Linked DNA regions of Homo sapiens: all the other regions are linked to region 2. Evidence: fine-mapped expression QTL. A gene starts in region 2. Each other region holds a variant in brackets. All regions are shown on one strand. Distances are from middle to middle.

Evidence for each region. PIP is the estimated chance that this variant, and not a neighbour inherited with it, causes the effect.
Region 1: its variant is the best candidate, but not a certain one, in a credible set for the expression of PRORP in monocytes (TOPMed, PIP 0.55).
Region 3: its variant is the best candidate, but not a certain one, in a credible set for the expression of PRORP in whole blood (INTERVAL, PIP 0.56).
Region 4: its variant is the best candidate, but not a certain one, in a credible set for the expression of PRORP in monocytes (Schmiedel 2018, PIP 0.63).

The regions. Positions count from the first base shown.
Region 1 is chr14:35,172,257-35,180,337 of GRCh38, forward strand. All of the region lies in intron 4 of PRORP (protein only RNase P catalytic subunit), which reads left to right. All of the region lies in intron 4 of PRORP-PSMA6 (PRORP-PSMA6 readthrough), which reads left to right. Among named protein-coding and RNA genes, the nearest start is that of PRORP, 54 kb to the left of the region's middle. The variant G/A (reference allele first, on the strand shown) is at 4,800.
Region 2 is chr14:35,118,931-35,127,011 of GRCh38, forward strand. PRORP (protein only RNase P catalytic subunit) reads left to right here and starts at 3,622. Exons shown (of 8, transcript NM_014672.4): 1 at 3,622-3,705; 2 at 4,022-5,301; 3 at 7,805-7,852. The coding sequence starts at 4,316. PPP2R3C (protein phosphatase 2 regulatory subunit B''gamma) reads right to left here and starts at 3,060. Exons shown (of 13, transcript NM_017917.4): 1 at 2,972-3,060. The coding sequence starts at 3,029. PRORP-PSMA6 (PRORP-PSMA6 readthrough) reads left to right here and starts at 2,909. Exons shown (of 15, transcript NR_182666.1): 1 at 2,909-3,122; 2 at 4,022-5,301; 3 at 7,805-7,852. RefSeq lists enhancers at 2,264-3,463, 2,683-3,602, 2,846-2,975, 3,516-3,595, 3,603-4,522 and 1 more.
Region 3 is chr14:35,087,456-35,095,536 of GRCh38, forward strand. It overlaps PPP2R3C (protein phosphatase 2 regulatory subunit B''gamma), which reads right to left. Exons shown (of 13, transcript NM_017917.4): 10 at 7,593-7,729; 11 at 3,615-3,752; 12 at 496-555. All of the region lies in intron 1 of LOC101927178 (a long non-coding RNA gene), which reads left to right. Among named protein-coding and RNA genes, the nearest start is that of PRORP-PSMA6, 30 kb to the right of the region's middle. The variant A/G (reference allele first, on the strand shown) is at 4,779.
Region 4 is chr14:35,361,366-35,369,446 of GRCh38, forward strand. No RefSeq gene overlaps it. Among named protein-coding and RNA genes, the nearest start is that of NFKBIA, 39 kb to the right of the region's middle. RefSeq lists enhancers at 5,962-6,551, 6,552-7,139, 7,140-7,728 and a silencer at 6,258-6,307. The variant G/GA (reference allele first, on the strand shown) is at 3,375.

The DNA.
Region 1 (8,081 bases), 53 kb after region 2:
CAGGCTGGTGTCGAACTCCTGACCTCAGGTGAGGCACCTGCCTCAGGCTCCCAAAGTACTGGGATTACAGGCAGAATTCTTGATTATATTTGCAATAGTTACTTTATAGCTCTTGTCTGCTAACTCAGGCATCTACACTTTGGATTGGTTTCTTTCTTTCCTTCCTTCCTTCCTTCCTTCCTTCCTTCCTTCCTTCCTTCTTTCTTTCTTTCCCCTCTTTCCTTTCTTTCCCTTCCTCTCTCCCTCTCTCCCTCTCTCCCTCTCTCCCTCTCTCTCCTGTCCTCTCCTCTCCTCTTTCTTTCTTTCTTTCTTTTCTGAGAGTCTCGTTCTGTCACCAGGCTGGAGTGCAGTTGCATGATCTCAGCTCACTGCAACCTTCGCCTCCCGGGTTCAAGCGATTCTTCTGCCTCAGCCTCCTGAGTAGCTGAGACTACAGGTATGCACTACCATGCCCAGCTAATTTTTATTTTTAAGCTAATTTTTTTATTTTTAGTAGAGACAAGCTGTCACCATGTTGGCCAGGATGGTCTTGATCTCTTGACCTCGTGATCCACCTGCCTTGGCGTCCCAAAGTGCTGGGATTACAGGTGTGAGCCACTGCGCCCAGCCAGTTTCATTTTTTTTTTTTGGAGATAGAGTTTCTCTCTGTTGCCCAGGCTGGAGTGCAGTGGCGTGATCTTGGCTCACTGCAACCTTCACTTCCCAAGATCAAGCAATTCTCTTGCCTTAGCCTCCTGAGTAGCTGGGATTATAGGCATGCACCACCATGCCTGGATAATTTTTATATTTTTAGTAGAGATGAGGTTTCACCATGTTGGCCGGGCTGGTCTTGAACTCCTGACATCAAGTGATCCACCCACCTGAGCCTCCCAAATTGCTGGGATTACAGGCTTGAGCCACTGTGCCCAGCCCAGATTAGTTTATTTTGAATCCCTTTTTTCTTGACTGTGGATCACATTTCTGTATTTCTTTTCATGTTTATTAATTTTCAATTGTGTATCAGACATTGTGAATGACACATTGCAGAGGCTTTAGAGATTATCTATGTTTGTCTAGAAATTATTGATTTTTTGCTAATTTAGCAGGCTGTTAAACTTCTTTAGACTTAGACTCCAAACTGTCTCCCTTGCAGTGGGTAGCAGCTGAGATCTCTGCTTAGGTCTTTCAAGTCTTTCACCTGTTGCTTTTTTGCTGGGCTTCTTGGAATCTTCTCCAAGCATGTGCAGATCATGTTTTACCCAAGGATTTGAGGAGATTTATGTGCAAATTTTGTGGTTTTATCCTTTCTAGGATTCCCTGTCATTTTCCAGCCTCTGGTTGCCCCAAACTCTGTCTTCTGTTTCCTCAAACCAGTAAGTTCTGCAGCTTTCTGCTTGATTTCCAGCTGTTCCTGCTGGCCATACTGTCTGGAGATTGCCCTCTGACCAAGACAAATTTTACCTGGTATAATTCCCTTCTTTTCTTTCCTTTATTTTCCCAAATATAGTGGCTTTAAAAAAACGCAATCATTTATTACTATTATTATTGTTGTTCTCTCTCGTGGTTCTAGGGGTTGATGAGACTCAATTGATGCTTCTTGCTTGGGTCTCCTATTGTAATCAAATAGGGGCTGGGGGTCATCTTGAAATCCCCCTCAGTCTCATCGGTGTGGTGATTGATGCTAGCTGGCTGTTGGCTGGGACTCCGTTGGACTGTCAGATGGAACACTTACATATAACGTCTACTTGGGCATTCTCAGGATGGCTGGTTTCCAAGAGCAAGCATCCTGAGAGTGACAGCCAGATGAAAGCTGTATTATCTTTTATTTCCTAGCCTCAGAAATCACATAATGTCACTTCTGCCACATCCCACTCATTGAGGCAGTCACAAAGGAGAGCCCATATTCAAAGCATAGGGTATTAGACATCACCTTTTGAGAGGGGAGTGTCAACTAATTTTCAGACAGATTTTAAAACTACCAAACCTTCAAATGTCATGTCCCCTCCAGTTTCTGCCTGCTTTTGCTCATTCTTTGGTACTTTGAAATAGTTGGGTATTTATCTAGAATTTATATTATTATCTAGTAGTCCAGTACAAACTATTCCATCATTACCAGAGGTAGAACTCCCTCCCCTATTTTTTTCTCCATAGCATTCTCACATTTAATATTATTTACTTATTGACTTCGTTTATTTTCTGCATCCTCCCACTAAGCTCCATTAAGTTGGGGTTTTTTTGTTCTGTTTTGTTTTGTTTGTCCCTTTGGTAAACTGCTAGGCATGTAGTAGGTGCTCAGCAAATATTTGTTGAATTAATGATTGGCTGAATCTTTACCTCTCCAAAACAGCCATAGGTAAATAAAAGCCTCTTAATGACAAAAGAGGACCTATACGTTTTACAGCCTTGTTCTTTCAGCACGGTTGTACTGGTAGAGTGGCATACCTAAGGTTCACTCCTCCTTGGCCTACAGAACAGGACTTAGAGATTTTGACAGTTCATTCTTCTTTTTTTTTTCTTTTTTTTTTTTTTATTATACTTTAAGTTCTAGGGTACATGTGCACAATGTGCAGGTTTGTATACATGTGCCATGTTGGTGTGCTGCACCCGTTAACTCGTCATTTACGTTACGTATATCTCCTAGTGCTATCCCTCCCCCCTCCCCCCACCCCACGACAAGCCCTGATGTGTGATGTTCCCCTTCCTATGTCCAAGTGTTCTCATTGTTCAATTCGCACTTATGAATAAGAACACGCGGTGTTTGGTTTTCTGTCCTTGCAATAGTTTGCTCAGAATGATGGTTTCCAGCTTCATCCATGTCCTTACAAAGGACATGAACTCATCCTTTTTTATGGCTGCATAGGATTCCATGGTGTATATGTGCCACATTTTCTTAACCCAGTCTATCATTGATGGACATTTGGGTTGGTTCCAAGTCTTTGCTATTGTGAACAGTGCCGCAATAAACATACATGTGCATGTGTCTTTATAGCAGCATGATTTATAATCCTTTGGGTATATAACCAGTAATGGGATGGCTGGGTCAAATGGTATTTCTAGTTCTAGATCCCTGAGGAATCGCCACACTGTCTTCCACAATGGTTGAACTAGTTTACAGTCCCACCAACAGTGTAAAAGTGTTCTTACTTCTCCACATCCTCTCCAGCACCTGTTGTTTCCTGACTTTTTAATGATCGCCATTCTAACTGGTGTGAGATGGTATCTCATTGTGGTTTTGATTTGCATTTCTCTGATGGCCAGTGATGATGAGCATTTTTTCATGTGTCTGTTGGCTGAATAAATGTCTTCTTTTGAGAAGTGTCTGTTCATGTCCTTTGCCCACTTTTTGATGGGGTTGTTTTTTTTCTTGTAAATTTGTTAGAGTTCTTTGTAGATTCTGGATATTAGCCCTTTGTCAGATGAGTAGATAGCAAAAATTTTCTCCCATTCTGTAGGTTGCCTGTTCACTCTGATGGTAGGTTCTTTTGCTGTGCAGAAGCTCTTGAGTTTAATTAGATCCCATTTGTCAATTTTGGCTTTTGTTGCCATTGCTTTTAGTGTTTTAGACATGAAGTCCTTGCCCATGCCTATGTCCTGAATGGTATTGCCTAGGTTTTCTTCTAGAGTTTTTATGGTTTTAGGTCTAACATTTAAGTCTTTAATCCAACTTGAATTAATTTTTGTATAAGGTGTAAGGAAGGGATCCAGTTTCAGCTTTCTACATATGGCTAGCCAGTTTTCCCAGCACCATTTATTAAATAGGGAATCCTTTCCCCATTGCTTGTTTTTGTCAGGTTTGTCAAAGATCAGATAGTTGTAGATAAGCGGCATTATTTCTGAGGGCTCTGTTCTGTTCCATTGGTCTATATCTCTGTTTTGGTACCAGTACCATGCTGTTTTGGTTACTATAACCTTGTAGTATAGTTTGCAGTCATGTAGCTTGATGCCTCCAGCTTTGTTCTTTTGGCTTAGGATTGTCTTGGCAATGCAGGCTCTTTTTTGGTTCCATATGAACTTTAAAGTAGTTTTTTCCAATTCTGTGAAGAAAGTCATTGGTAGCTTGATGGGGATGGCATTGAATCTATAAATTACCTTGGGCAGTATGGCCATTTTCACAATACTGATTCTTCCTATCCATGAGCATGGAATGTTCTTCCATTTGTTTGTGTCCTTTTTTATTTCGTTGAGCAGTGGTTTGTAGTTCTCCTGGAAGAGGTCCTTCACATCCCTTGTAAGTTGGATTCCTAGGTATTTTATTCTCTTAGTAGCAATTTTGAATGGGAGTTCACTCATGATTTGGCTCTCTGTTTGTCTGTTATTGGTGTGTAAGAATGCTTGTGATTTTTGTACATTGATTTTGTATCCTGAGACTTTGCTGAAGCTGCTTATCAGCTTAAGGAGATTTTGGGCTGAGACAATGGGGTTTTCTAAATATACGATCATGTCATCTGCAAACAGGGACAATTTGACTTCTTCTTTTCCTAATTGAATACCCTTTATTTCTTTCTCCTGCCTGATTGTCCTGGCCAGAACTTCCAACACTATGTTGAATAGAAGTGGTGAGAGAGGGCATCCCTGTCTTGTGCCGGTTTTCAAAGGGAATGCTTCCAGTTTTTGCCCATTCAGTATGACATTGGCTGTGGGTTTGTCATAAATAGCTCTTATTATTTTGAGATACGTCCCATCAATACCTAATTTATTGAGAGTTTTTAGCGTGAAGGGCTGTTGAATTTTGTCAAAGGCCTTTTCTGCATCTATTGAGATAATAGTGTGGTTTTTGTCTTTGGTTCTGTTTATATGCTGGATTACATTTATTGATTTGC[G/A]TATGTTGAACCAGCCTTGCATCCCAGGGATGAAGCCCACTTGATCGTGGTGGATAAGCTTTTTGATGTGCTGCTGGATTCAGTTTGCCAGTATTTTATTGAGGATTTTTCCATCGATGTTCATCTGGGATATTGGTCTAAAATTTCTCTTTTTTTGTTGTGTCTCTGCCAGACTTTGGTATCAGGATGATGTTGGCCTCATAAAATGAGTTAGGGAGGATTCCCTCTTTTTCTATTGATTGGAATAGTTTCAGAAGGAATGGTACCAGCTCCTCCTTGTACCTCTGGTAGAATTTGGCTGTGAATCCGTCTGGTCCTGGACTTTTTTTGGTTTGTAGGCTATTAATTATTGCCTCAATTTCAGATCCTGTTATTGGTCTATTCAGAGATTCAACTTCTTCCTGGTTTAGTCTTGGGAGGGTGTATGTGTCCAGGAATTTATCCATTTCTTCTAGATTTTCTAGTTTATTTGCGTAGAGGTGTTTATAGTATTCTCTGATGGTAGTTTGTATTTCTGTGGGATCGGTGGTGATATCCCCTTTATCATTTTTTATTGTGTCTATTTGAGTCTTCTCTCTTTTCTTCTTTATTAGTCTTTCTAGCAGTCTATCAATTTTGTTGATCTTTTCAAAAAACCAGCTCCTAGATTCATTGATTTTTTTGAAGGGTTTTTTGTGTCTCTGTCTCTTTCAGTTCTGCTCTGATCTTAGTTATTTCTTGCCTTCTGCTAGCTTTTGAATGTGTTTGCTCTTGCTTCTCTAGTTCTTTTAATTGTGATGTTAGGGTGTCGATTTTAGATCTTTCCTGCTTTCTCTTGTGGGCATTTAGTGCTATAAATTTCCCTCCACACACTGCTTTAAATGTGTCCCAGAGATTCTGGTATGTTTTGTCTTTGTTCTCATTGGTTTCAAAGAACATCTTTATTTCTGCCTTCATTTCATTATGTACCCAGTATTCATTCAGGAGCAGGTTGTTCAATTTCCATGTAGTTGAGCGGTTGAGTGAGTTTCTTAATCCTGAGTTCTAGTTTGATTGCACTGTGGTCTGAGAGACAGTTTGTTATAATTTCTGTTCTTTTACATTTGCTGAGGAGTGCTTTACTTCCAACTATGTGGTCAATTTTGGAATAAATGCGATGTGGTGCTGAGAAGAATGTAAATTCTGTTGATTTGGGGTGGAGAGTTCTGTAGATGTCTATTAGGTCCGCTTGATGCCGAGCTGAGTTCAATTCCTGGATATCCTTGTTAACTTCTGTCTCGTTGATCTGTGTAATGTTGACAGTGGAGTGTTAAAGTCTCCCATTATTATTGTGTGGGTGTCTAAGTCTCTTTGTAAGTCTCTGAGGACTTGCTTTATGAATCTGGGTGCTCCTGTATTGGGTGCATATATATTTAGGATAGTTAGCTCTTCTTGTTGAATTGATCCCTTTACCATTATGTAATGGCCTTCTTTGTCTCTTTTGATCTTTGTTGGTTTAATGTCTGTTTTATCAGAGACTAGGATTGCAACCTCTGCCTTTTTTTGTTTTCCATTTGCTTGGTAGATCTTCCTCCATCCTTTTATTTTGAGCCTATGTGTGTCTCTGCATGTGAGATGGGTCTCCTGAATACAGCAACACTGATGGATCTTGACTCTTTATCCAGTTTGCCAGACTGTGTCTTTTAATTGGAGCATTTAGCCCATTTACATTTAAGGTTAATATTATGTGTGAATTTGATCATGTCATTGTGATGTTAGCTGGTTATTTTGCTCATTAGTTGATGCAGTTTCTTCCTAGCATCGATGGTCTTTACGTTTTGGCATGTTTTTGCAGTGGCTGGTACCGGTTGTATCTTTCCACGTTTAGTGCTTCCTTCAGAAGCTCTTTTAGGTCAGGCCTGGTGGTGACAAAATCTCTCAGGATTTGCTTGTCTGTAAAGCATTTTATTTCTCCTCCACTTATGAAGCTTAGTTTGGCTGGATAGGAAATTCTGGGTTGAGAATTCTTTTCTTTAAGAATGTTGAATATTGGCCCCCACTCTCTTCTGGCTTGTAGAGTTTCTGCCTAGAGATCCGCTGTTAGTCTGATGGGCTTCCCTTTCTGGGGAACCTGACCTTTCTCTCTAGCTGCCCTTAACATTTTTTCCTTCATTTCAACTTTAGTGAATCTGACAATTATGTATCTTGGAGTTGCTCTTCTTGAGGAGTATCTTTGTGGCATTCTCTGTATTTCCTGAATTTGAATGGTGGCCTGCCTGCTAGGTTGGGGAAGTTCTCCTGGATAATATCCTGCAGTGTTTTCCAACTTGGTTCCATTCTCCCTGTCACTTTCAGGTACACCAATCAGACATAGATTTGGTCTTTTCATATAGTCCCATATTTCTTGGAGGCTTTGTTCATTTCTTTTTCCTCTTTTTTCTCTAAACTTCTCATCTTGCTTCATTTCATTCATTTCATCTTCCATCACTGATACCCTTTCTTCCAGTTGATCGAGTCGGTTACTGAAGCTTGTGCATTCGTCACGTAGTTCTCGTGCCATGGTTGTCAGCTCCATCAGGTCATTTAAGGACTTCTCTACACTGGTTATTCTAGTTAGCCATTCATCTAATCTTTTTTAAAGGTTTTTAGCTTCTTTGCAATGGGTTCGAACTTCCTTCTTCAGCTTAGAGAAGTTTGATCGTCTGAAGCCTTCTTCTCTCAACTCATCAAAGTCATCGCAAAGCTTTGTTCTGTTGCTGGCGAGGAGCTGCGTTCCTTTGGAGGGGGAGAGGTGCTCTGATTTTTAGAATTTTCAGCTTCTCTGCTCTGTTTTTTCCCCATCTTTATGGTTTTATCTACCTTTGGTCTTTGATGATGTTGACAGACAGATGGGGTTTTGGTGTGGAAGTCCTTTCTGTTTGTTAATTTTCCTTCTGACAGTCAGGACCCTCAGCTGCAGGTCTGCTGGAGTTTGCTGGAGGTCCACTCCAGACCCTGTTTGCCTGGGTATCAGCAGCGGAGGCTGCAGAACAGCGAATATTGCTGAACAGCAAATATTGCTGCCTGATCGTTCCTCTAGAAGCTTCGTCTCAGGGGTACCCGGCCGTGTGAGGTGTCAGTCTGCCCCTACTTGGGCTACTCGGGGGTCAGGGACCCACTTGAGGAGGCAGTCTGTCCATTCTCAGATCTCAAACTCCGTGCTGGGAGAACCACTGCTCTCTTCAAAGCTCAGTTGAAAGTGCAGAAATCACCCATCTTCCGCATCGCTCACGCTGGGAGCCGTGGACTGGAGCTGTTCCTATTCGGCCATCTTGGAACCGCCAG
Region 2 (8,081 bases):
CATGAGCCACTGCGCCCAGCCAAGTACAGGTAACTTCTTTGAGAAGTTTTCCTATGAAGAGTGCAGAGAAATGCAACAGAAGCTGGAGAGGGATGTGGGATCAAATGACTTTTTTTTTTTTTTTTGAGATGTAGTCTCGTTCTATCGCCCAGGCTGGAGAGCAGTGTCGTAATCTCAGCTCACCGCAACTTCTGCCTCCTGGGTTCAAGCGATTCTCCCGCTTCAGCCTCCCAAGTAGCTGGGATTACAGGTGTGCACCACTGCGCCCAGCTACTTTTTGTATTTTTAGTAGAGACGGACTTTCACCATGTTGGCCAGGCTGGTCTTGAACTCCTGACCTCAAGTGATCTGCCTACCTCGGCCTCCCGAAGTGTTGGGATTACAGGTGTAAGCCACAGTGCCCAGCCCAAATGAATTTTTTTTAAGACAGGGTCTGGCTCTTGTCACCCAGGCTGCAGTATAGTGTCATGATCATAGCTCACTGCAGCCCCAAACTCCTAGACTGAAACAACCCTCCCTGCTTCAGCCTCTCGAGTAGCTAGGACTACAGTGGTGCACAACCACCCGGGCTAATTTTTTACTTTCTATTTTTGTAGAAACGGTGTTTCACTATGTTGCCCAGGCTGGTCTCAAACTCCTGGCCTCAAGCGATCTTCCCATCTCGGCCTCCCAAAGTGCTGGGGTTACATGAATGAGCCACCGAGCCTCCCAACACCACTACCCCCGACCACCCACCTTTTAAAAAGATGGGTGATATTAACAGCACGTTTGTGCTGGTGTAAATGATCCAGCAGAAGGAAAATCTGATGATGTAGGAAAGAAAGGAGGAGGCTGGAAGGAAGTCAGTGAATACAGGGAAAAGAATGCAATCTAGTGGTGGACTGGAGGGACTCTTAAATAGGAGCATGGACAGTTCATCTTTTTTTTTTTTTTTTTTTGAGACGGAGTCTCGCTCTGTCGCCCAGGCTGGAGTGCAGTGGCACAATCTCCGGCTCACTACAACCTCCGCCTCCCGGGTTCACGCCATTCTCCTGCCTCAGCCTCCTGAGTAGCTGGGACTACAGGCGCCCGCCACCGCACCCGTCTAATTTTTTGTATTTTTAGTAGAGACGGGGTTTCACTGCGGTCTCAGTCTCCTGACCTCGTGATCCGCCCGCCTCGGCCTCCCAAAGTGCTGGGATTACAGGCTTGAGCCACCGCGCCCGGCATCAGTTCATCATTTTAACAGTGAAGCCAGAGTGTATGGGCAACTAACTGTGGGGTTGTGGGGCTGAAAGAAATGTTAAGGGGGACAGGTGATGTTCTCCTCTGACTGCTTCTCCTTTTTTTTTGAGACTGAGTGTCGCTCGGTCGCCCAGGCCGGAGTGCAGTGGCACAATCTCGGGCTCACTGCAAGCTCCGCCTCTCGGGTTGAAGGTATTCTCCTGCCTCAACCTCTGGAGTAGCTGGGACTATAGGCGCCCGCCACCACTACCGGGTAATTTTTTTGTATTTTTAGTAGAGACGGGGTTTCACCGTGTTAGCCAGGATGGTCTCGATCTGCTGACCTCGTGATCCGCCCGCCTCGGCCTCCCAAAGTGCTGGGATTACAGGACTGAGCGACCGCGCCCGGCCGACTGCTTCTCCTTTCTTAATGAGATATATATTAAAATACAAGTTCATCAGCTTAAAGTAAGAAGCGGGTAGGACAGACTGCAGGTGTAGGAGATGAGAAGAATAGTGTAAAAGAGTGTTGCCTGGGTGCGGCGGCTCACGTCTGTAATAGCAACACTTTGGGAGGTGGAGGTAGGAAGACTGCCTGAGGCCAGGAATTCGAGACCAGCCCAGGCAACATAGCAAGACCTCATCTCCACTAAAAATAAAAAATTAGCCGGGTGTGGTGGCGTGTGCCTGTACTTCTAGCTGCTCAAGAGGCTGGGGTGGGAAGATCCCTTGAGCCCAGGAAATCGAGGTTGCAGCAATACTTCACTGCGCCGCTGCACTCCAGCCTGGGCAACACAGGGAGATCCTGTATCGGAAAAAAAAAAGTGTATTTAGGAAAACACAGATTGGCAGTTTGGGAGATGAAAATTGAATGTAGGAGAATGAACGTCCAGGAAAACACGGTAGACATGACCAAAACACCTTCTTTAGATTAGTGGACTTGTATTAAAAGTGAGATAACTCGGCGGGGCGCGGTGACTCACGTCTGTAATTCCAGCACTTTGGGAGGCCGAGGTGGGCGAATCACAAGGTCAGGAGTTTGAGACCAGCCTGGCCAATATGGCGAAACCCCGTCTCTACTAGAAATACAAAAATTAACCGGCCGTGGTTGCGCGCGCTTATAGTTCCAGCTACTCCAGAGGCTGAGGCAGAAGAACCGCTTGAACCCGGGAGGCAGAGGTTGCAGTGAGCGGAGATGCTGCCACTGCACTCCAGCCAGCCTGGGCGACAGAGCAAGAGACTCCGTCTCAAAAAAAAAAGTGAGACAACTCACCAAGGTTCTGTTTTTCTCCAGCCACTTTCAACAGCCCTTAGTGCGGGTGTGGAATAGGAAAGGTAGATTTAACGAGGTTAGTTAATAAGCAATGTGAAGGAGAAAAATAAAAGGAAAAATGGATTATGAAATATAAAATGGATTACGAGGGAAGCAAAAAGCGTGACAGTAAAAAGGCAGGAGGACAATTATAGGTCCTGGTGGGGTTCAGGCGTTGTTGGAGCCGGGGTTCCAAGTTATTCTTCACAAGTTTAGATTAAGACCATGGAAGTCAGTGACTAAAGCTAAGTTTTTCGTTCCTCTAGATTCTGCCCCAGGAAAGTTTGGGTCAAACCTATCGGGATCCTTAAACCACATTCCACTCCGCCTCCTTTGTCGGGAGGTTTCACAGAAGCGGAAAAGGCGGCTCCCCCTTGCTCCTCCTCCCCACCTCCCCCCTACCTCTAGGAGTTTAGGGCCGGGCCATCCCAACGGGCTGCCCCTCCCAAAACTCACTGTTTGGACAGGTGTTGGGCGTCGCTAGGCGCCGACGAAGAACTTCTTTCCAGTCCATGGCCGACTTCCGCGCAGCAGCTTCTGCATTTGCTGTTTCCTACCTGCTCCACCCCTACCAGCTCAGGCGTCAGCACCGCCAGGCCCCGTAAAGGTTAGGAAGGCCGTCCAACCACCATCTTGATCGAGGGCGGAAGTCTTGGCTAAAGAGGCAAAAACAATTACTGTCACTGCCGCGGAGAATACCGCTACCACGCTGACTGGGGGAAAAAACTATGAAAGAGATGGAAAATGGTTCTCCTTCAGAGGCGACCCAAGCTCACCAAGCCGGATTTTAAAGGCCACGATAAGCCCGCGTTTTCCTTTATCGTGTGCCTTTGGCGCGTGCGCACCACGTGACCCAGGAGTTCATTAGTTCCGGCTTGAGGGAAGCGCCTTCTTTCACAATTTCTTTTCATTGTTCATTGCGGATATCTGGAAGCCTTCCAGGTCCCCTGAATGTAGTAGACACTTCAGCAGCCGTCTCCTACCCCTTTTGCCACTAAATGCTTCAAAACTGCCTTTTTTCCTCGCCGCCGGGCCAGGCGGAACGCCTAAGTCCGGGTCAGTCTCGTCCGTCGGTCGGGGCTGGCGCGGTGCATCGTGGGCACTGTAGTTTCCGCCGCGTTTATGGCCGCGTTAAGTCTGAGTGCCGCTTTGAGTTGTTGAATGAAGTGAACTTCATTTGTCAGCGTTCGGTACGCAGTCTAGGCAGCGCCCTTCCTGTACCTCTCTTCCTTTCCTGAGTCGTTGGCGCAGCTGACTCGCCACCTCCTCCCTCCTCGTCCCCCCACCGGAGGAGTTTTGCGGTCTGTAGAGAGCTATGCAGGGTGAGGGCCCCTAGACTTCGGCTTTCGCCGCTGTTGGTGGTAGGCTGGAGTTGGGGGTCCCTGGATACGGTTTTGGCTTTACACCCCCTTTCCAGCAAGCTTCCCGTGGGAATCTGTTCCTTTTCAGGACAGCTGTGATCCACGTGAGTAAAACTGGGCGTTCCGTCTTGTGCTTTTTCCTCAGGTTCATGAACTGGAATGTAAGAGGCACCAGAGGATTCCTGCTCTGTCCCCTGGTTTGCGGCTTGCGACGTTGGACATCCCCGGATTGTTGTTTAATAGAGAAAACTCACCTGCCTTCTTGCTTTTAAGTAGCCCCAAAAGCAGAACCTTGATTTGTCTGTAAGGAAGAAACACAAACCTTTTAAAAAGTTCCACTTCGACTCTGCACCGCCGACCCCCAATCTCTTTAATTTTGCCATAGAAGAGGGGTTTTTTCAACATCTCTCTCACTATCTGGTGCTGATCTCACTGCATAATGACTTTCTATTTGTTTGGTATTCGAAGCTTTCCGAAGCTTTGGAAGAGCCCATACCTTGGGCTAGGCCCAGGGCACTCTTATGTCTCGCTGTTTCTGGCAGACCGCTGTGGCATCAGGAACCAGCAGAGGTTGTTTTCTCTTAAAACAATGTCTCCACAGAATACCAAAGCAACGAATCTGATTGCCAAGGCCAGATATCTCAGGAAAGATGAGGGCAGTAATAAGCAAGTTTATTCTGTTCCTCATTTTTTTTTAGCTGGAGCAGCTAAGGAGAGATCACAGATGAATTCTCAAACTGAAGATCATGCCTTGGCACCTGTGAGGAACACTATTCAACTCCCAACACAACCTTTGAATTCAGAGGAGTGGGATAAACTTAAGGAAGATTTAAAAGAAAACACCGGAAAGACCAGTTTCGAAAGTTGGATCATTTCACAGATGGCTGGCTGTCATAGCTCTATAGATGTGGCTAAATCTCTGCTGGCATGGGTAGCAGCCAAAAATAATGGTATTGTAAGTTACGATTTACTGGTCAAGTATTTGTATCTCTGTGTCTTTCATATGCAGACATCTGAAGTTATTGATGTCTTTGAAATTATGAAAGCCAGATATAAGACTTTAGAACCTAGAGGTTACAGTCTTCTCATCCGGGGATTGATCCATTCAGACAGATGGAGAGAAGCATTGTTGCTGTTAGAGGACATCAAAAAAGTTATAACTCCTTCAAAAAAGAACTATAATGACTGTATCCAGGGAGCTCTCCTTCATCAAGATGTAAACACAGCTTGGAATTTATATCAGGAATTGCTAGGTCATGATATTGTTCCTATGTTGGAAACTTTAAAAGCTTTCTTTGATTTTGGAAAAGACATAAAGGATGATAACTATTCAAATAAACTACTAGATATTCTTTCATATCTAAGAAATAATCAGCTGTATCCAGGGGAGTCATTTGCACACAGTATAAAAACATGGTTTGAGAGGTAATTTTGGTTTTTTTATATGTATGTTTTTATTCTTTAATTTTTTTTTTTTTTGAGACAGGGTCTTGCTCTGTTGCCCAGACTGGAGTGCAGTGGTGTGTTCATAGCTCACTGTAACCTCAAACTCCTGGCCTCAAGTGATCCTCTCGCTTCAGTCTCCTCAGTAGCTAAAACCACAGGCATGTGCCACCATACCTGGCTAATTATTTTTAATTTAATAACTTTAAACCTCAAAGTAGCCATTCTTTTTTGTTGTTAGTTGCTGAGAATCACTCTTCTGATTATACTTTTTTCCATCTCTTAGTAAGATTTATTTTCTCTTTACGACAAAATTTTCTCTCTTTAAAAAAAGTAACAACATACATAATTTGTGCTAATCTTTACCCATCACATAAAACTGAAATTATATAGCAGTTTTAATTTTTACATTTTTTTCCTTTTGGAAGGATCATTAATTTTGTTTTCTTAGGCATCTAGTATGATGTGAGTACTTAATACTACTTATGGCCACTGTTCATAGCAAGAAAAGAATATAGCATTTGACTAGAACTGTCTCTGGCCATATTAGTATTTTCAGAAGTTCCTCTGAAATCTAGCGACTGAGATAATATGCTTATATTTATTCTGTCTACTCTCTCCCTTTTTTTTTTTTTTGAGACGGAGTTTTGCTCTTGTTGCCAGGCTAGAGTGCAATGGCATGATCTCGGCTCATTGTAACCTTTGCCTCCCGGGTTTTCTCCTGCCTCACACTCCCGAGTAGCTGGGATTACAGGCATGCGCCACCATGCCCTGCTAATTTTCTATTTTCTTTTTAGTAGAGACGGGGTTTCTCTATGTTGGTCAGGCTGCTCTCGAACTACCTCAGGTGATCCGCCTGCCTCGGCCTCCCAAAGTGCTGGGATTACAGGCGTGAACCACCGCGTCCGGCCTATTCTGTCTACTATCTATAGTTCATCAACTTGGATGATTAGAGTGGACAGGGGGATATTGATCAAGCCTTATACGTAAGCATTACAATGGAAAATCTTAACCCTTCCAGTTTGTTTTGGACCTTTCTATCATTTGGCTGCTGTCTCTCTAAAGCTCTCTCCTTTGGTTTGCTTTTGCTTTATTCATGTTACTGGGTACATACCTGTTTATTGCTTTAGTCTTTTTTAAAATTTTTGAAAATTTTTACTTATTTTTTAAAATTAATATTCTTTTTTTAAGAGGTGGGGTCTTGCTGTGTTGACCAGGCTGGACTCAAACTCTTGGCCTCAAGCGATCAGGTGTGAGCCACCATGCTTAGTCATTATTTCTTCATTAATTTGCTTCCTAAAAATTTGTTCCTTCCCTCTGTTTTTCTCTTGCCTTTTTTTCCCCTATATCATGTTTACGGAGCTTTGAAGCAGTAATTATGCTTAATTATCTTAAACTTACTGAAGATCAAGGGAGGAGGAGCCCATTTGTGAAAATCTTTGAATACCAAGGAGTTTGGATTTTATTCTGTTATCAAGAATGCTGGATTTGGCTGGGTGCTGTGGCTCACGCCTGTAATCTGAGCACTTTTAGAGACTGAGGTGGGAGGATAGCTTGAGGCCAGGAGTTGGAGACCAGCCTGGGCATGGTGAAACCCTGTCTCTACAAATAATACAAAAATTAGCTTGGCATGGCGGTGTGTGCCGGTAGTCCTAGCTACTTGGGAGGCTGAAGCAAGAGGATCACTTGAATCTAGGGAGTCAATCAAGGCTGCAGGGAGCTGTGATGGCGCCATGCACTCCAACCTGGGCGACAGAGCAAGACCTTGTCTCAAAAGAAAAAAATAATGCTGGAATGGAGTTTTACAAAGGCAGTTGCCAAGTGAGAAGAGTAGATAGGAGAGGGATTAAGATTGAAAACAGGGAGATCTGCGTGAATACAATTTTAGGTTTAGGTGAGAGATGATGAGAATTAAGAACTGAGGAAGGAGAGAAGGCAGTAGAATCATAAGAACTGATGGTAATATGTGGAAGGGGAAGGAGGAAAGGATACATTGATTGAACAAATACATCAATACATAGTTTTTGAATGCTTCCAAATAGGCTAGGCATTGCGAGTGTTTTATAAAATCTATTATGACATTCTCAATTTAATTGGGAATACAGTACCACACAGTGAAATAACAGTGGTGTGTAAGAGGTAAATTACTCTCGGCAGGAGCAATTTCTGGCAGCTTTATGGAGAAGGTAAGAGTTGAGTTTGGTTTAGAGGTTATGCTACTAAGGTCAGCCGCTTTTGGTAGACTTGAAGATGAGAGTTATTTGTTGGGAGGAGAACCACAGGGAAGAAGGAGATCCAGAGCAGAGTACCAGCAGCTTCTTAACCCCATCCAGGATAGCAGCCACTTTTTAAATTAAACCATTCTACAGAAGTATCTTGAACTTTTCGGACTTCTTGCTTATAAGAGTTTCCAAATACCATGAATATCTTTCATTTCAGTAGGAATCTAACCTTCTCATGATTTGGTTTTGCAATCTTTTCATAGTGTTCCTGGAAAACAATGGAAAGGACAATTCACCACAGTCCGAAAAAGGTGAAGACCAATGTTTATTTTTAACTTGTTTGATTTTGGTTTAGTAGGTTTTGTTGCTATTAATTGAAAAATATTTAAGAACACCTTAAGGGTAGGATAATTACAAGTTTGTAATTAGAGTATCTGAGGAAAAAAACATACTTTGCATACAGAGACTTAGCAGTGCCCAAAATGTTTTTCCTGTGAGTACTGTGAACCTATATGAAGTCTTAGAGATGTTTTTTCCCTA
Region 3 (8,081 bases), 31 kb before region 2:
GTGGCACAATCTCAGCTCACTGCAACCTCCACCTCCTGGGCTCCAACGATTCTCCTGCCTCAGCCTCCCGAGTAGCCGGGATTACATGCATGCGCCACCATGCCCAGCTAATTTTTGTATTTTTAGTAGAGACGGGGTTTCACCATGTTGACCAGGCTGGTCTTGAACTCCTGACCTCGGATGATCCGCCCGCCTCAGCCTCCCAACGTGCTGGGATTACAAGCATGAGCCACTGAGCCCGGCCCCCTGACTGTCTTAATTAAAATGAATGAATGCTTCCAATGAAAACATAATGATGACAATACTAAAATTATAAACTACATAAATAGTCCAAATGTGGTCTCAGTTCGTAATGATTTAAATATCAGTTCAGAACAAAAAGCAAACACTTGATTCAAATAGTACTTCATTAGTTGCTTTCATATAAAATTTCATGTAATACAAATGACTATCTCATAATTATCTGGTAATACGTAAATTAAAGGAAAAGATAACCTTGACATCTTGAAATGAAACAGGATCTTGTCCATGGATTTTCATTAGTTCCTGTATGGCCTGTATTTAATAGAAATAAATCTGTAAATAAAAAATGAAATACACAACATCCCTCTTTTGCCCTACAACCCCTTTCTACTTATACTTCCTTTCCTATCAGGCCACAAACCTCATCATTCTCTCTCTTGCCAATCTTCTTAGCTTTCTTGACCTTATTCCACATCAGTGAGCAAAACCTAAATTCTCGATTAGTGTATTGACCTTTTTAGACCTATATCTTAACTATTGAGAACTTCAGGAAAAAAAATAAAAAGATTACGGATTGCTGCTTCTACATAGGAATGTTCTCCAACCTCAAACAGGCCCTCAGCATGGCCTCACAATTATTCTGTTTGATCTGCTCCTCTCATTTTCCATGAATGTTATTCCTGCCTTCACTATTCTCTTAAGATCCCCAATCTACTGTCTCCCTTCCTACCCTACACTTTGCTTTCTACGTAATACAAGAAATGGAGGTAGACCTCCCAAAACTCTTCCTTTTCATAAACTTTAACAAAAAAATGAAGAAACTGCTGTCATCCAGTAGGAATACAAAATACTTCAGGTGAGCATTATTCACTGGAAATGTGAAGTTTCAAATTCTTGGTGAACAGTCAACTTTGTTCCCGATGCCTACTCTGTTACCACTAATAATCAGAGTATCCATAAAGGAATCCCTTTGAAGTAGATAAGAATCTGAGTACATGCTCTGTTAATATAGTAATAGATGGTATGATCTAGAGTGAATCATCCAGACCCAGCTTTATCATTAGGATAGTGATGTCCAAACGCTCTGTGAACAGCCCAGGATTATAGGGCTCAGCATTGGACACTTTTTACCTTATCCCATATAACCAAGCCTAAATAAGCTTTGACAAAATGCCTATATGAAATATTTTTAAAGTAGTTTTAAAACAATTTAATATTCTAAGAGTAGAAAATACTGTAAAGAAATCTTTATGAAAAAGAGCAGTGTTTAATTTCAAATACATTTATTTTCTTAAGACTGGATTTTTACCTAATAGGTTTGTCTAAAGTAGGGGCATTCCTATGATGGGTTGGTATTTATTTTCTCAGATGAGCCGCTGATATAAGCCCATATAGCATTCAGTTTTTTTAATTTTTATTTTTAGAGATAGGGTCTTACTCTGTCATTCAGGCCGTAGTGCAGTGGCAAATCATGGATCACTGCAGCCTTGACCTCCCGGACTCTAGTGATCTTCCCACCTTAGCCTCTCAAGTAGCTGGGACTGCAGGCATGTGCCACCACACCCAGCTAATTTTTAATTTTTTTGTAGAGATGGAGTCTCCCTATGTTGCCCAGGCTGGTTTCCCAACTCCTGGGCTCAAGCAACCCTCCTTCCCTGGCCTCCCAACGTGCTGGGATTAGAAGCATGAGCGACCACGCCTGGCCTAAAAATTATTTTCATGGTTTATTTCAACATAGCAAATAAAAGTATCTACAACTGGCTGGGCACAGCCTCCCCAGTAACCGGGACCACAGGCATGTGACCACTACACCCAGCTAATTTTTTAAATTTTTTGTAGAAGTTGGGGTTTCCCTGTGTTGCCCAGGCTGGTCTCAAACTCCTGTGCTCAAGTGAACCTCCTGCCTCAGCTTCCCTAAGTGCTAGGATTACAGGTGTGAGCCACCATGCCTGGGGTATGATTTTTTAATTTTTTTTTTTCTTTTTGAGACTCAGTCTCGCTCTGTTACCCAGGCTGCAGTGCAGTGGCGCAATCTCGGCTCACTGCAAGCTCTGCCTCCTGGGTTCATGCCATTCTCCTGCCTCAGCCTCCCGAGTAGCTGGGACTATAGGCGCCCGCCACCACGCCCGGCTGATTTTTTTGCATTTTTAGTAGAGATGGGTTTCACCATGTTAGTGAGGATGGTTTTGATCTCCTGACCTTGCGATCCGCCCACCCTGGCCTCCCAAAGTGCTGGGATTACAGGCATGAGCCACCGCAACCCGGCCGATTTTTAAATTTAATAAAAGCATTTACATAACAGATTTCAGAAAGAAATCAAGTTTTTAGTTTTCTTTCCTACTTAAAAAAATTGAGTGAAAGCTGATTTGACTAGATGTAAAATAAAAATATGTAAATATACGTCAGGGGCTGTACTACCATTGGAAATACAAATATGTGATAAATTCTATACTTGTGATGAAAAACTTGTAAGATGCTAAGCAGTTCAGAAAAGGTAGCTCCTTTCCACAGAAATTTTTATAGACTTTGGTAGTTGTAGTTTTTTTTTTTTTTTTTTTTTTGAGACCGAGTGTTGCTTTGCTGCCCAAGCTAGAATGCAGTGACGCGATTTCAGCTCACTGCAACCTCCGCCTCCTGGGTTCAAGTGATTCTCCTGCCTCAGCCTCCCAAGTAGCTGGGATTACAGGCATGTGGACCCAGTTATTGGGGAGGCTGAGTGGGAAGACTGCCTGAGCCCAGGAGTTGGAGGTTGCGGCGAGCTATGATCATGCCACTGCAGCCTGGGCGACAGAGCCAGACCCTTTCTCAAAAAAAGAAAAAAATAAATAAAAATCACGAGTTAGGTAAAATGGTTACTAAATATTTAATTTAAACCAAATGATATATCTTTAATTTGCTCTTCTTTTTCTAATTTCCTAAAGTAGATGCTGATTTTAGATCTTTAACATTTTCCAGTATATGCATTCAATACTATAAATTTCCCTCTAGCCACTGCTTTTGCTGCATCTCACAATTTTTTTTTTTTTTTTTTTTTTGAGACGGAGTCTCGCTCTGTCGCCCAGGCTGGAGTGCAGTGGCACGATCTCGGCTCACTGCAAACTCTGCCTCCCGGGTTCACGCCATTCTCCTGCCTCAGCCTCCCAAATAGCTGGTACTACAGGCACCCACCACCACACCTGGCTAATTTTTTGTATTTTTAGTAGAGACGGGGTTTCACCATGTTAGCCAGGATGGTCTCTATCTCCTGACCTTGTGATCCACCTGCCTCGGCCTCCCAAAGTGCTGGGATTACAGGCGTGAGCCACTGCACCGGCAGCAACAAAATGATATATCTTAAGGAACAATGACTCACTTATGCAAATGAGACTTACCCTAAAGAAATAATTAAGTGAAAAGACATTCAGGTATCCTTTGTTCTCAATATCAAGCAGTTTGAAAATATATTGTAGAGCTGCAGGTTCCTTTCTGTTTTCTAATGCAAGGACAAAGTCCAAGTAGGTCTTATAGTCCTACAGAACAGAAAATAATGTTCATTAGAGGCCTTAGTTGAAATTAACTTTCAAGTGAATATCTTATGATTTGAAGCTATTTTGCAATCAAAGGTGGCAAATTTAATTTTTTCCCTAAGTTATGATATGAGAAATCCATTTATATACTTAATATTGGTTTCTAGGGAATTTTTTTCGAGACAGAGTTTCACTCTCATTGCCCAGGCTGGAGTTGCAATGGCACAATCTTGGCTCACCACAACCTCCACCTCCCGGGTTCAAGCAATTCTCCTGCCTCAGCCTCCGGAGTAGCTGGGATTACAGGCATGTGCCACCATGCCTGGCTAATTCTGTATTTTTAGTAGAGATGGGGTTTCTCCATGTTGGTCAAGCTGGTCTCGAACTCCCGACCTCAGGTGATCCGCCCGCCTCAGCCTCCCAAAGTGCTGGGATTATAGGTGTGAGCCACCCTGCCCAGCCATAGGAATTCTATATATAATCTACACAGGACAGTTTTGAGGACATAGTTCTTTTTTATTTATTTATTTTTTTGAGACGGAGTCTTGCTCTATTGCCCAGGCTGGAGTGCAGTGGTGCAATCTCAGCTCACTGAAACCTCTGCCTCCCAGGTTCAAGCGATTCTCCTGTCTCAGCCTCCCAAGTAGCTGGGAATACAGGTGCACACCACTATGCCCAGCTAATTTTTATATTTTTAGTAGAGACAGGATTTTCCATGTTACCCAAGCTGGTCTCAAACTCCTGACCTCAAGTGACCCGCCTGCCCCGGCCTCCCAAAGTGCTGGGATTATAGGCATGCACCACTGTGCCCAGCCCTAGTTCATTTTTTTATGAGAGATTTGCTGTGTTAAACTATAATTTTCTTTCATTATTCTTGTTTTTGAGACAGGGTCTCACTTTATCAACCAGGCTGGAGTGCAGTGGTACGATCATAGTTCACTGCAACCTTGATCTCCCAGGCTCAAGCAATCTTCCCACTACAGCCTCCGAGGCAGCTGAGACTACAGGTACACGCCATCACACTTGGCT[A/G]ATTTTTTAAATTCTTTGTAGAGATGGGGTTTTCCTGTATTACCCATGCTAGTCTCAAACTCCTGGGCTCAAGCAATCATCTGGCCTCGGCCTCCCAAAGTGCTGGGACTAGAGGGATGAACTACTGCATCCTGCTTCAAACTTTTGAAACAGATGACTAAGCTATAAACTTATAACTTCATTTCAGTGCAGTTATTTTGAAAAACAAATTTTTTATCTGGAATGAACAGAACAGTATAATTTTTTTTTTGAGATGGAGTTTCGCTCTTGTTGCCCAGGCTGGAGTGCAATGGCGCGATCCTGGCTCACCACAACCTCTGCCTCCCAGGTTCAAGTCATTCTCCTGCCTCAGCCTCCTGAGTATCTGGGATTACAGGCATGCACCACCACGCCTGGCTAATTTTGTATTTTTAGTAGAGAAGCGGTTTCTCCAAGTTGGTCAGGCTGGTCTCAAAACTCCCAACCTCAGGTGATCCACCCACCTCGGCCTCCCAAAATGCTAGGATTACAGGTGTGAGCCACCGTGCCCAGTCTCAGAACAGTATATTTAAATTGCTATTTTAAAATATTGTTTAAAATTTTTAATTCAGATTTCCAATAAGAAGCTGTCTTGAGATTGCCAGACATTTTACAGTGAGCTGACACTGCTCTCATCCATAAAAAGGCAAAATGGAAAGGCCAGAAAGACATGAAGAGAACAGAAAGCCTTCCCTATAAAAACAGGATACGCACTTCGGGGGGCCGAGGCGGGCAGATCAGAAGGTCAAGAGATCGAGACCATACTGGCTAACACGGTGAAACTCCGTCTCTACTAAAAATACAAAAAAAAATTAGCCGGGCATGGTGGCGGGCGCCTGTAGTCCCAGCTACTCGGGAGGCTGAGGCAGGAGAATGGCGTCAACCCGGGAGGCGGAGCTTGCAGTGAGCCGAGATCGCGCCACTGCACTCCAGCCTGGGCGACAGAGGGAGACTCCATCTAAAACAAAAACAAAAACAACAAAACAAAACAAAAAAACAGGATACTCAGATTTTTTTTTTAATGGTAAAAAGTAGTAATTGGGAGGTTCTCACTTAGATAAAAATTTTATATTCTTAGAAAAGTTCCTTTCTGCATAAATAGCACTAAAGAGTTAAAGAATGCAGATTGTGATCTGACTTCATCCATAGTTGTAGCCTGATTTTCTCTATTCATCAGGAATCATTATATTAATAATATAAGCTCCTCACTGTCTATTGTTTACAGCTGTGGGAGTTACAAAGTAAATTTTCTGTGCCTTTTCCCCTCTTTTCTTTTGTTGTTACTAATGGTGTTATTTAGCAAACTGCTATTGAAGCTAAATGATAAATGTAAGACCCCCCCATTCTCATGACAATATGACTATTTTTTAAGCATAACTGGTTTGGGAAATTTATCAGATTCTTTTTTTTTTTGAGATGGAGTCTCGCTCAGTTGCCCAGGCTGGAGTGCAGTGGCGCCATCTCGGCTTACTGCAAGCTCCGCCTCCCGGGTTCACACCATTACACCATTCTGCCTCAGCCTCTGGAGTAGCTGGGACTACAGGTGCCCGTCACCGCACCCAGCTAATTTTTTGTATTTTTAGTAGAGACGGGGTTTCACCGTGTTAGCCAGGATGGTCTCCATCTCCTGACCTTGTGATCCACCCGCCTCGGCCTCCCAAAGTTATCAGATTCTTAACCCATGTTTTTAGCAGCAAAAATGGTGATTTTAAAATGCTGTTTAGAATTTTCCTTCTCAAGTATTTTGCATTGTTATAATAAAAAGACAAGTGCATGTTATCTTCAGCTGTTCATATAGCCACTTCTAGAGACTAATACAACCTGATTCTCAGAATTAAATCATGGCATATGTGTTACTACATTTGACCTGGTAATTTAATGACGGAACTATCTAGCTGAAAATAGCCAGAATAATTTACTAATGTTTCAGCTTTTAAGAGACATGGTCTCACTCTACTGCCCAGACTGGAGTGCAGTGGCCTCATCATAGCTCACTGCAGCCTCAAATTCCTCAGGTCAAGCAATCCTCCTGCCTCAGCCTCCCGAGTAGCTATACTACAGGCACATTCCATCCATGCCCAAGTAATTTTTTTATTTTTTGTAGAGACAGTCTCGCTGTATTGCTCAGGCTAGTTTTGAACGACTGGCCTTAAGTGGTTCTGTGGCCTTGGCCTCCCAAAGCGCTGGGATTATAACCATAAGCTACCAAGCCTGGCCTCAGCTTTTTTTTAAAAAAAAAAAAAAACTAGAATGCACTACTGTACAGTAGGTGCACTGACAATGAAATGAACAATAAGCTTTTCTATTTGCCCTGAGGCCATAATGCAGATGTTTTAATTTACGTTAAGACCAAAGACTCTGAATCTCAAGTAATTTGATCAGTTTACACATTTTAAAGACACTGTTACACAGTGATATCAATAATGCTGGGCCGAGTGTGGTGGCTCACGCCTCGTAATCCCAGCACTTTGGGAGGCAGATCACCTGAGGTCAGGAGTTCAAGACCAGCCTGGCCAACCTGGTGAAACCCCATCTCTCCTAAAAGTACAAAAATTAGCTGGATGCAGTGGCATGCACCCATAATCCCAGCTACTCCGGAGGCTGAGGCAGGAGAATCACTTGAACCTAGGAAGTGGAGGTTGCATTGAGCGGAGATCACACCACTGCACTCTAGCCTAGGCGACAGAGCAAGACTCTGTCTCAAAAAAAAAAGGGCTGTATTACATCAAGAAAAGGGTTTGTGGAAACTCTGGGAGCCTAAACTTTTAAAACTTAGCAGCAGATTTAAACTACTACCATTTCTCCATCATAAGTGAGACACTCCTGGAAAACACGGTCTAAGAAGACATTGGTCATGGTAGCTGTTCCATAGCGTGAGAGTTCTTCTTTACTGAGCATGCCATTGTGATCTTTATCAAGATTCAAGTACTGGCCTTGGGAAGAAAAATAATAAAGACACTTATGACCACAATAAAATTTTAATCAGAAGAATAGACTAACAAAAAGTTTTTTCTTGGTTAATATTTTGATTTTCAAACTATTCATGTTATGATTAGGGTAGTGGCCTATGTGTAATACTATCAGCTACCTTTGCAATCTTGATCAGAAAAACCCTTGGGCTAGAAACAGCCAAAAAAACCCATCATGAAGGCCATAGTCTCTGGGCTGTTTCACTTACATCATTATTTGTTTTCAGTTTGCAGTCTTTTTAAACATTCCTAGGTTTCTAAATTAAATGGAGGTAGAGGCCAACAAAAAGCACTGAAATGCTAGCACTTGAAAGTA
Region 4 (8,081 bases), 240 kb after region 2:
AAACGGGCCAGGCACAGTGGCTCACGCCTATAATCCCAGCACTTTGGGAGTCTGAGATGGGTGGATCACCTGAGGTCAGGAGTTCGAGACCAGCCTGACCAACATGGTAAAACCCAGTCTCTAGTAAAATACAAAAATTAGCCAGGTGTGGTGGCAGGCGCCTGTAATCTCAGCTACTGGGGAGGCTGAGGCAGTAGAATCACCTGAACCCAGGAGGCAGAGGTTGCAGTGAGCCCAGATCATGCTACTGCACTCCAGCCTGGGTGAGAGTGAGACTCCCTCTCAAAAAATGAAAAATAAAAACAGGTGAAATGAATTCTAATCTATTTTGTTTAATAAAAAATAATTAAAAGATTATTTCAACATGTAATTGATGACAATGACTGTTACTTATTTTACAGTCCCTTTTCCTCACTGAGCCTTTGAAACCCAGTGTCTATTTTACATTTACAGTGAATCCCGTTTCAGACCATCCACATTTCGGTGCTCACTAGCATTATGTGGGCAGTGAACAGCACAGATCTAGAACTTTTATATCTCCTTTTCTTTTATTTTTTCTTTCTTTTTTTTTTCTTTTGAGATGCAGTTTTGCTCTTGTCACCCAGGCTGGAGTGCAATGGTGCAATCTCGGCTCACCGCAACCTCCGCCTCCCGGGTTCAAGCGAGTCTCCTGCCTCAGCCTCCCGAGTAGCTGGGATTACAGGCACGCGCCACCACAGCCAGCTAATTTTTTTTGTATTTTTAGTAGAGATGGGGTTTCACCATGTTGGTCAGGCTGGTCTCAAATTCCTGACCTCAGGTGATCTGCCCACCTCAGCCTCCCAAAGTTCTAGGATTACAGGCGTGAGCCACTGCGCCCGGAGTTCTTTTATTTTTTCTTTACTTTTCCCTTTTTTTCCCTTCCTTCCTTCTTCCCTCCTTCCCTTCTTTCTCCTTTTTTAGAAAATCAGATCATTCTTTAGAAATTGAGACAGATGTCTACCTGCCAACGACATTCACCCAGGCAGATGATGCTGGGAAACCTTATTTTCCAGAATTCTCTGCTTTCCTGTCGCTGCTCCCTCCTGGCACTTTTTGGGCTTCTGGCAGGCCACTGGTTAGCAGGGCACAAAGATCTCCCCTAGCACATTCAGCTTCCCACGGGCTCATCTGTCTCCATGGAATGGTGAGGGCAGGCTCACATGGGGCCTTCCTTCTTTTCCAGCAGTGGCTTCAGTATTTGCCAAGACTCCCCATGTCTTTTTCGTGCCTGGAGTTTCACTTTGCATGGGTGGCTGGTAGCCAGAAGGCCCTTCTACCTTGGAGAGTCCCTGCATCCATCTCTGGGCTTGAGGACAACTTTGAGCCCCAAAATCGGGCTCTCATAGAAGTAATTCCATTGTCACATGTCCTGCAGCAATCCTGGAACACCACTCTGGGAAATAAGCTCCTGGAAAAAAAATTGGGGAGGAATTTTGAGGAGGTGTGTAGTCCAGAAAGATTTGGAATGAAGTAATCTTTTAGGCATAAATTTACCAGAAGCCAGTATTTCTTTATTTGCATTTCCTTTCATTATCAAGCAAAGTAACACACACACACGCGCGCGCGCACACACACGCGCACACACGCACAGGCACGCACGCATGTACACATGCACGCACACGGACACATGCACACACACGCACACGCATATGGACACAACGCAGACATGCATGCACACACGTGCACGCACGCACACACACACTTGCACACACACACACGCACCCTGCTTGCAGTTATGCAATGGTTTGTGCAGTTGCTGTGAGCCCAGAAGCGCTTGTCTGAGTGTGCATATCCCTGGCTTCCTGCACTGAGGGCAACAGGAGGCAGTGGGAATTTCTCAAATGTTCACAAGAATGTCGAGAGGGCGTTCTGAGTAATCAAAACTCCTTGAACTTGTGGGAAAATGCAGTCCCAATTTCCTTTTCGAGACAATGGTCTTTGAAAGCTGTATGCCACGAGAGTTTTCGTTTGTTTATGGTTAGAGAATATGGTAAAATGCACGTCTGTGGAAGGCCCCAGGAGTGAGAAATCCTGCCACATGGATGGTGCGGCCCTAAGTGCAGGGCAAACTTGTATTCTCCAGCTGGCACTAATGCCTGCTGCATCGCTGACCCACTCAGCTTCAGTGTTTTGGCCATTAGTGTGATCAGCCTAACAAAACTCTTATGTCATTCTCGTTACCCTTTTCTCTCTTAGGAAGCCAACTCTCAGGGTCTTCCTCCGCTTCTGTTCTCTCATGCCCCTTGGTGGAGGCTCCCAGATGGACGCTCAGACACGGAAGGTCCAGGGAGATGCGTGGATCTGCCGCCATGTGGGTGGACCAAGCTGTTGCCTCCATTGGAAGCCTCTGTCCGGTGCCACATCCTCCCTGGGTTCCAGTCCCCACCTGCCAGGTTGACAATTAGGCAATTTGATTTACTAAGGAGAAGACAAAGAAAGAAAAGGAGAAATATTTCAAGAAAAAAAAGACTGTGAAAAAGAAAAAGTGAAAAAATAGGGAATATAGAAAAAAAAACCGCAATCAGGAGAGAGAAATAAAGAATTCCAGGATGATGAGTCTGGATGGAGAAAGCCTCCGTTTCCCCACTCCAGAAGTCTGAGCTGAGTGAACTCCTTAGCATTAAGGGAGGTGTCTCTATGGAGGACTGAATATGTCTTGCGAGAGGTGGGGCAGGTGGGATGGGGGGTGGGGTGGAGTGCTATCCCAGTTAAGCCTTTAGGTACTAGGTACCCAGGAGGTCTCATTAATTCTGGAATCATTTTGATATATTAGATACGCTCAAGGATGAGCTGTGTGCTGTTTCTCTTGCTGTACTATGTGGTCCAGATTCCAGACTCCAGAGCCCTTAGGCAAGCCCAGAACTGTCCCCACAATCTCTGGGTGGCAGCTGCCCCAATCATGGCTGTCCAACCTACAGGAGCAACTAAACATGGGATTCCCAGGCAGGGAGGAGATGCTGTAGGGTGGCGGAACCTGCAGCATGGATAGCCACCTACTCTGTCCTCTCTGTCAGGACAGCCTGACCGAGGCCCACAAGTGGCTGCTCACTCCTCCCGGCCTGACTGCACCAGTCTAGACTGGGCTCTTAGCATCTGTCACCTGGCCTTTGTTGTTTTAAGGAGCACAATAATAATAACAATAATTTAAAAAAAAAAAAACTCTTTTGGCTGGGTGTGGTGGCTCACACCTGTTATCCTAGCACTTTGGGAGGCCGAGGTGGGCAGATCACTTGAGGCCAGGAGTTTGAGACCATCCTGGCCAACATGGTGAAACCCTGTCTCTACTAAAAATACAAAAATTAGCTGGGTGTGGAGACAGATGCCTAAAATCCCAGCTACAGATTCTGTCTCCA[G/GA]AAAAAAAAAAAAAAAAAAAGCCAGGTATGATGGCGCACCACCATAGTCCTAGCTACTCAGAAGGCTGAGGCACAAGAGTCGTTTGAACTCTGGAGGCAGAGGTTGCAATGAGCCAAGATCGCACCACTGCACTCCAGCCTGGATGACAGAGCAAGACTCTGTCTCAAAAAATAAATGAATAAAGATTAAAAAGAAATAAAAAACTATTTTGAGCCAGGCATAGTGGCTCATGCCTGTAATCCCAGCACTTTGGGAGGCTGAGGTGGGAGGATCACTTGAAGCCAAGAGTTCGAGACCATCCTGGGCAACATAGTGAGACTCTGTCTCAATAAATAAAAAAATAAATAAATAAATGAAACTCCTTTGAGGATCTCAACCAACATGAGCTGTTTGTAATTCCAGAAATAGCCCGGACACTGAGTGGCCCTACCCCCTCAAAGGATTCCAGGACAGCTCCCACCTTCTTAGAGGGATGTGGAGGGAGAGCCGGCCCTGGGCATGTGACTTCTGTGCCCTCAGCCGCTGTTGGCTCACTCTGAGGAGGTCCAGCCTCCCTCCCATGGGTCACACAAGCATCTCTCCTCTTCCCCGAGGAGCAAGAACACAGGGAACGTCTACATCGAAAGGAGGAGCTTTAGGGTTTTGTGCCAGCTTCACTTCATTTCTTCTGCTGTTGGTTCATTCATCTAACAGAATTTATTGAAGTCCTAAGGGGTGGGGACACAGAACTGAACTCTCCTGGTCCTGGCCCTGAGGGGCCCCTGCCTGGACGGCTTGAACCCGGGAGGGCCAGGCCCACCTCCCGTGGGGCCCGTTTTCCCCTCTGGGAGGTGGGCAGCCTCACTCAGAAAAGTGCTTGTAGAGCAGTTTCACCCCTTTGTGAATGAGCTTCGGCAAGCACAGGGGTGAGTCACGGCCTTGGTGACACAGAACACATGACTTCGAATTGCCCAGAAGTATGACTGGTGCCCTGGCCTGTGCTTCCCCACCCTGAGGGGGAGGCCACTGTCAGCTCAGAACAAGGGATCCAAAGATGACCTTTCTTGTTTTCCAAAGACCTGCTGTCAGCTGAGGCCTTTCAAGGCCCTGTATATCCATGGTGAATTCCTGGAAGGCAGCTTGAAGTAACCACTGAATGGGTTTGGTTTCTTTTTTTTTTTAATTATCTAAGCAAAGCACCTTTCTCCAAAAAGAGCAAATTCACTTGTGGGTCACTTCCTGTGGGAAGATGGAAAATGTTCTTACTTGGGAGTAGATGGGGAGAGCAGGCCCAGCTCCAATAGCTTGCTGGTGCCACTGAGATTCTTGAGCCTGGAGGATCCTGGCTGACTTGCTCCAGACCTGGCGGAGGGTCTGTCTCAGTCACGGTTCTCCCCAGCGATGACCGAGAACTGGTCCCAGTTCCTGACATGCTGTGGGTCCAGTGTGACCCACAATCTGCCTGGCCCATCCCCTCGGCGGGCGCACCTCTCCTAGTGTAGGATGAAGCATAAATGGCAGAAACCAGCAGGCGCCGCTTCTGTGTCCACCGAGTCAGCTGGGATCCATGCAGCTGGTGGCTTGTCGGTGGCAGGCCAAGGCCTGAGTCATGTCCCCGTCACAGCCTTCAGTGGAGGGCTGACCCACAGAGGAAATTACACAGCACTCTGTGGCCCATGATGGAGTCAGGGGCTTTTCCAAGGGCATCAACTGGGAAGGCAGAAAGAAGTCATCACCCACGCTGGAGTCTAAGGCTTGGGGACCCCCACTTACTCCAGGGGAGAAGGCCTGGTGACCTCGGGGACAGCGAGGCCTGTGCAAACCTCTTCCACAGCCCTCCACTGGCCAGCAGGGTGCCCACAGTCCCGACCCCTCTGTGACAGCGCTGCATGCTCACCGAGCCAGCCTTGCCCCACATGGTTCCTTGGGCTGCAGCCAGAAGTCCATCCGCAGCCTTTTACCCAGATCCACACCAGCCCCAACCCTCAGTCAGAAAACACAGCACCTCCAATGGAGCCAGAGGCCACCCCTCTCAGATAGCTGTGTGACTCTGGCAACTAAATTCAACTCTGTGGGCATCAGTCTCTTCATCTGTAAAATGGGTCTTGAACACGGGGCTTCAGTCTCTTCATCTATAAAATGGGTCTTGAACACCTACCTGACCAACTTGTGGTGAAGATGAAATGAAACTATGCAAAGGCCTGGCATAGAGCCGGCACACAGTGGGTTCTCTGTACATGGTCCTCGCTCTCAGCCTGCTCTGTTGCAAAATCCAGGTTGGCACTACCCCCCAGGGCTCAGCCCTCAGCGTTATCCCTTTCCTTCCCCATACCCAGTCTCCCAACCCTTCGTGCAAGTGTGTGGTGGAGGAGACCGAAGCTCCACATCCAAATGGAGGGGTTGACTCCTCTGTAGTGAGGGGTCAGCCTAGCTTGAGTCACTGGGAGACTGTCTTCCAGCCTCCCCTTGCCCACCCCAGACCTGACATCCCAGGGCCACCCTGCAGGGAGCCTGAGGTGGAGGGGCCTGGCTACCTGTCTGCAAATGTGGAGCCGGGGGAGGTTGGTTGGCAGAAAGGAGGGAGAAGTGACGAGGCGCCCCAGGCCCTGTGCCTGGAGTCAGAAGGGCCAGCTCTGGGAGAACCTTCACCCTCGTGGAGACTTTGCCTCAGAATGTTTGCCTGGAACCCAGCCCACCAGGGCTGACACCTGAGGCTGAGGCTGCCCTGTCATGCCCCTTCCACACCAGGGGCTCTGTGCTGGGATTGCTGTGGCCAGTTACGGGGAGGCCTGCAAGTTTGGGCAGCCGAGGTCATGCCTCTCAAAGAGGAGCCGGATGAATATATCAAGTAAATGTGCATTTCAGCTTGTGGTAGGGCCAGACACAGCTGTGTGTGTGTGTGTGTGTGTGTGTGTGTGTGTGTGTGTGTGTAAGGGGAGCAACATTCACTGTGCACCTACCATGTGGCAAGCTAGTGCTAGGCCCTGTACTTGTACTATTTCATTTAATGAGTTTAATTTGCATGGCTGCTTCTGTGGCATTCCAGAGTGGCTTTTCACACTTTCTTTGGCTGGGGTGGGGGTGGGGAGAACTGTATTTCTATTTTTATCTTCCCATGGTGGGGTGCTCTGCTCATGGGGCCCCTTATCTCCCCCGGCACTTTCCCCTACATCCGGCTGCAACTAGAAGCTTTCGGTATGCAAAGGGAACTTGCAGCTTCACAACAGCCCCCTCACCCGCCTCCTCCCAGCCCTGCATGGGGGTCAGGCCACCTCTTCCCCAGGAGGACCCTTCTTCTCTTCTGGGCTGGATGGAGGCAGGATCTGTGCTTCTCCCTCAAACCTGGGAACCAACTGGGAGGGACATCTTCTCCTTTCACCCTCTTGCCCCAGCAGCTCAGGGGTTCATTTGGATGAATGGGCCCTGCCTGTAGCAGCCTGGCATGGGGGCAAACCAGGACTCCACATGGCTGAGGAGCTCCCCGGGCCCCTGCACTCCATTGGGTTGACTTATTTTAACCCATTGCACTCCCAGCTGAGCTTTAGAGGGCAAGGTTTGGGGTTAGTGGGTAGCCTTGGGGTTGGAGGTGCAGTCCCGCATAGTGACTTGACATCTAGGAAGAGCTCATTGTTCTGAATGTGATCTTTACAACCACCCTGAGGCTGGTCCCTAAAGCTATGCTCTGGAAATGAGTCCAAGTGTCCCCAGTCTGTTTTCCTCATTCCTCTGCTTACAAACAAAGGTGCACTTTTACTTGGTAGGTACAGTTGTGGGTAGTTTATTTGATTTTGCAAAAGCAAAACTCTTTGTAATATTTTATGATGTTGGGATGCGAAGTGCGTTTATTCTCATTTCTTTTTCTTTTGTTTCTCCCCTCACCCCAGAGAGGTGAATAGTCTCATTTTTAAGCAATGTGCAGATACTGGTGCCTTTCTTCAGCTGGAACTGTGTACAAAAGTGGCCCGGAGAAGGATCAATGACAGGCAGCTTAAATTTCTAAGGGGTGTCAGGGTGGAACGTGTGATTCAGAGCTTGCACCCACTCCAGGGGCTTTCCTGGACAGAGGGGCTGGGCTGCCCAGGCCTCCTGGGTGACCGCGGGGGCAGGAGAGCAAATGCCTGGGGACGCCCTCCCAGACTCTGCCAGAAAGAAGCCCGCAAACCCAGCGAGGGGCAGGGCGGCTGGGGTGAGATTTTTTAACTCTTGAGATATCGGAATACAGCTATTTTTCATACGGTTATCTCTAAATTGCAAAGACAAAAGAAAACCACTTAAACATCAGCTAGCTGTGCCAGACATTTGTCCCTCTGGCCACGTCTTGGGGACAGCGGCGCTGCGGCTCTGGCCCGTGGGATCCTGGTTGGGCTCAGCCCCGGGGAAAACGCTGCAGAGATGGGCGGCGGAGGGTGAGCCGAGGTCCGGGTTTATTTCCTGGACTCCCTGTGGGCTCTTCACTGGCGTTGCGGGGTCACCTGAGGGCTGCACTGCGCTCGCGCTGCTGCTCCTCTTTCCTTCTCTCACTGGGTCGCTTCTGGGTTCAGGCAGGGTCCGGGCAGCTGTCGCGCGCCCGGGTTCCAGCACTAACCCTCGTGGCTGCCCCACGCTGGGCCCTGGCCTTTGTAAACGGTTCCTTTATTAAACTCTCTCCAAATACCCACGGCATGCGTGTGACAGCGGACTCCTTCCTGCCCGTCACACCGGCGATGTGCACAAAAAGTATCTCAGAC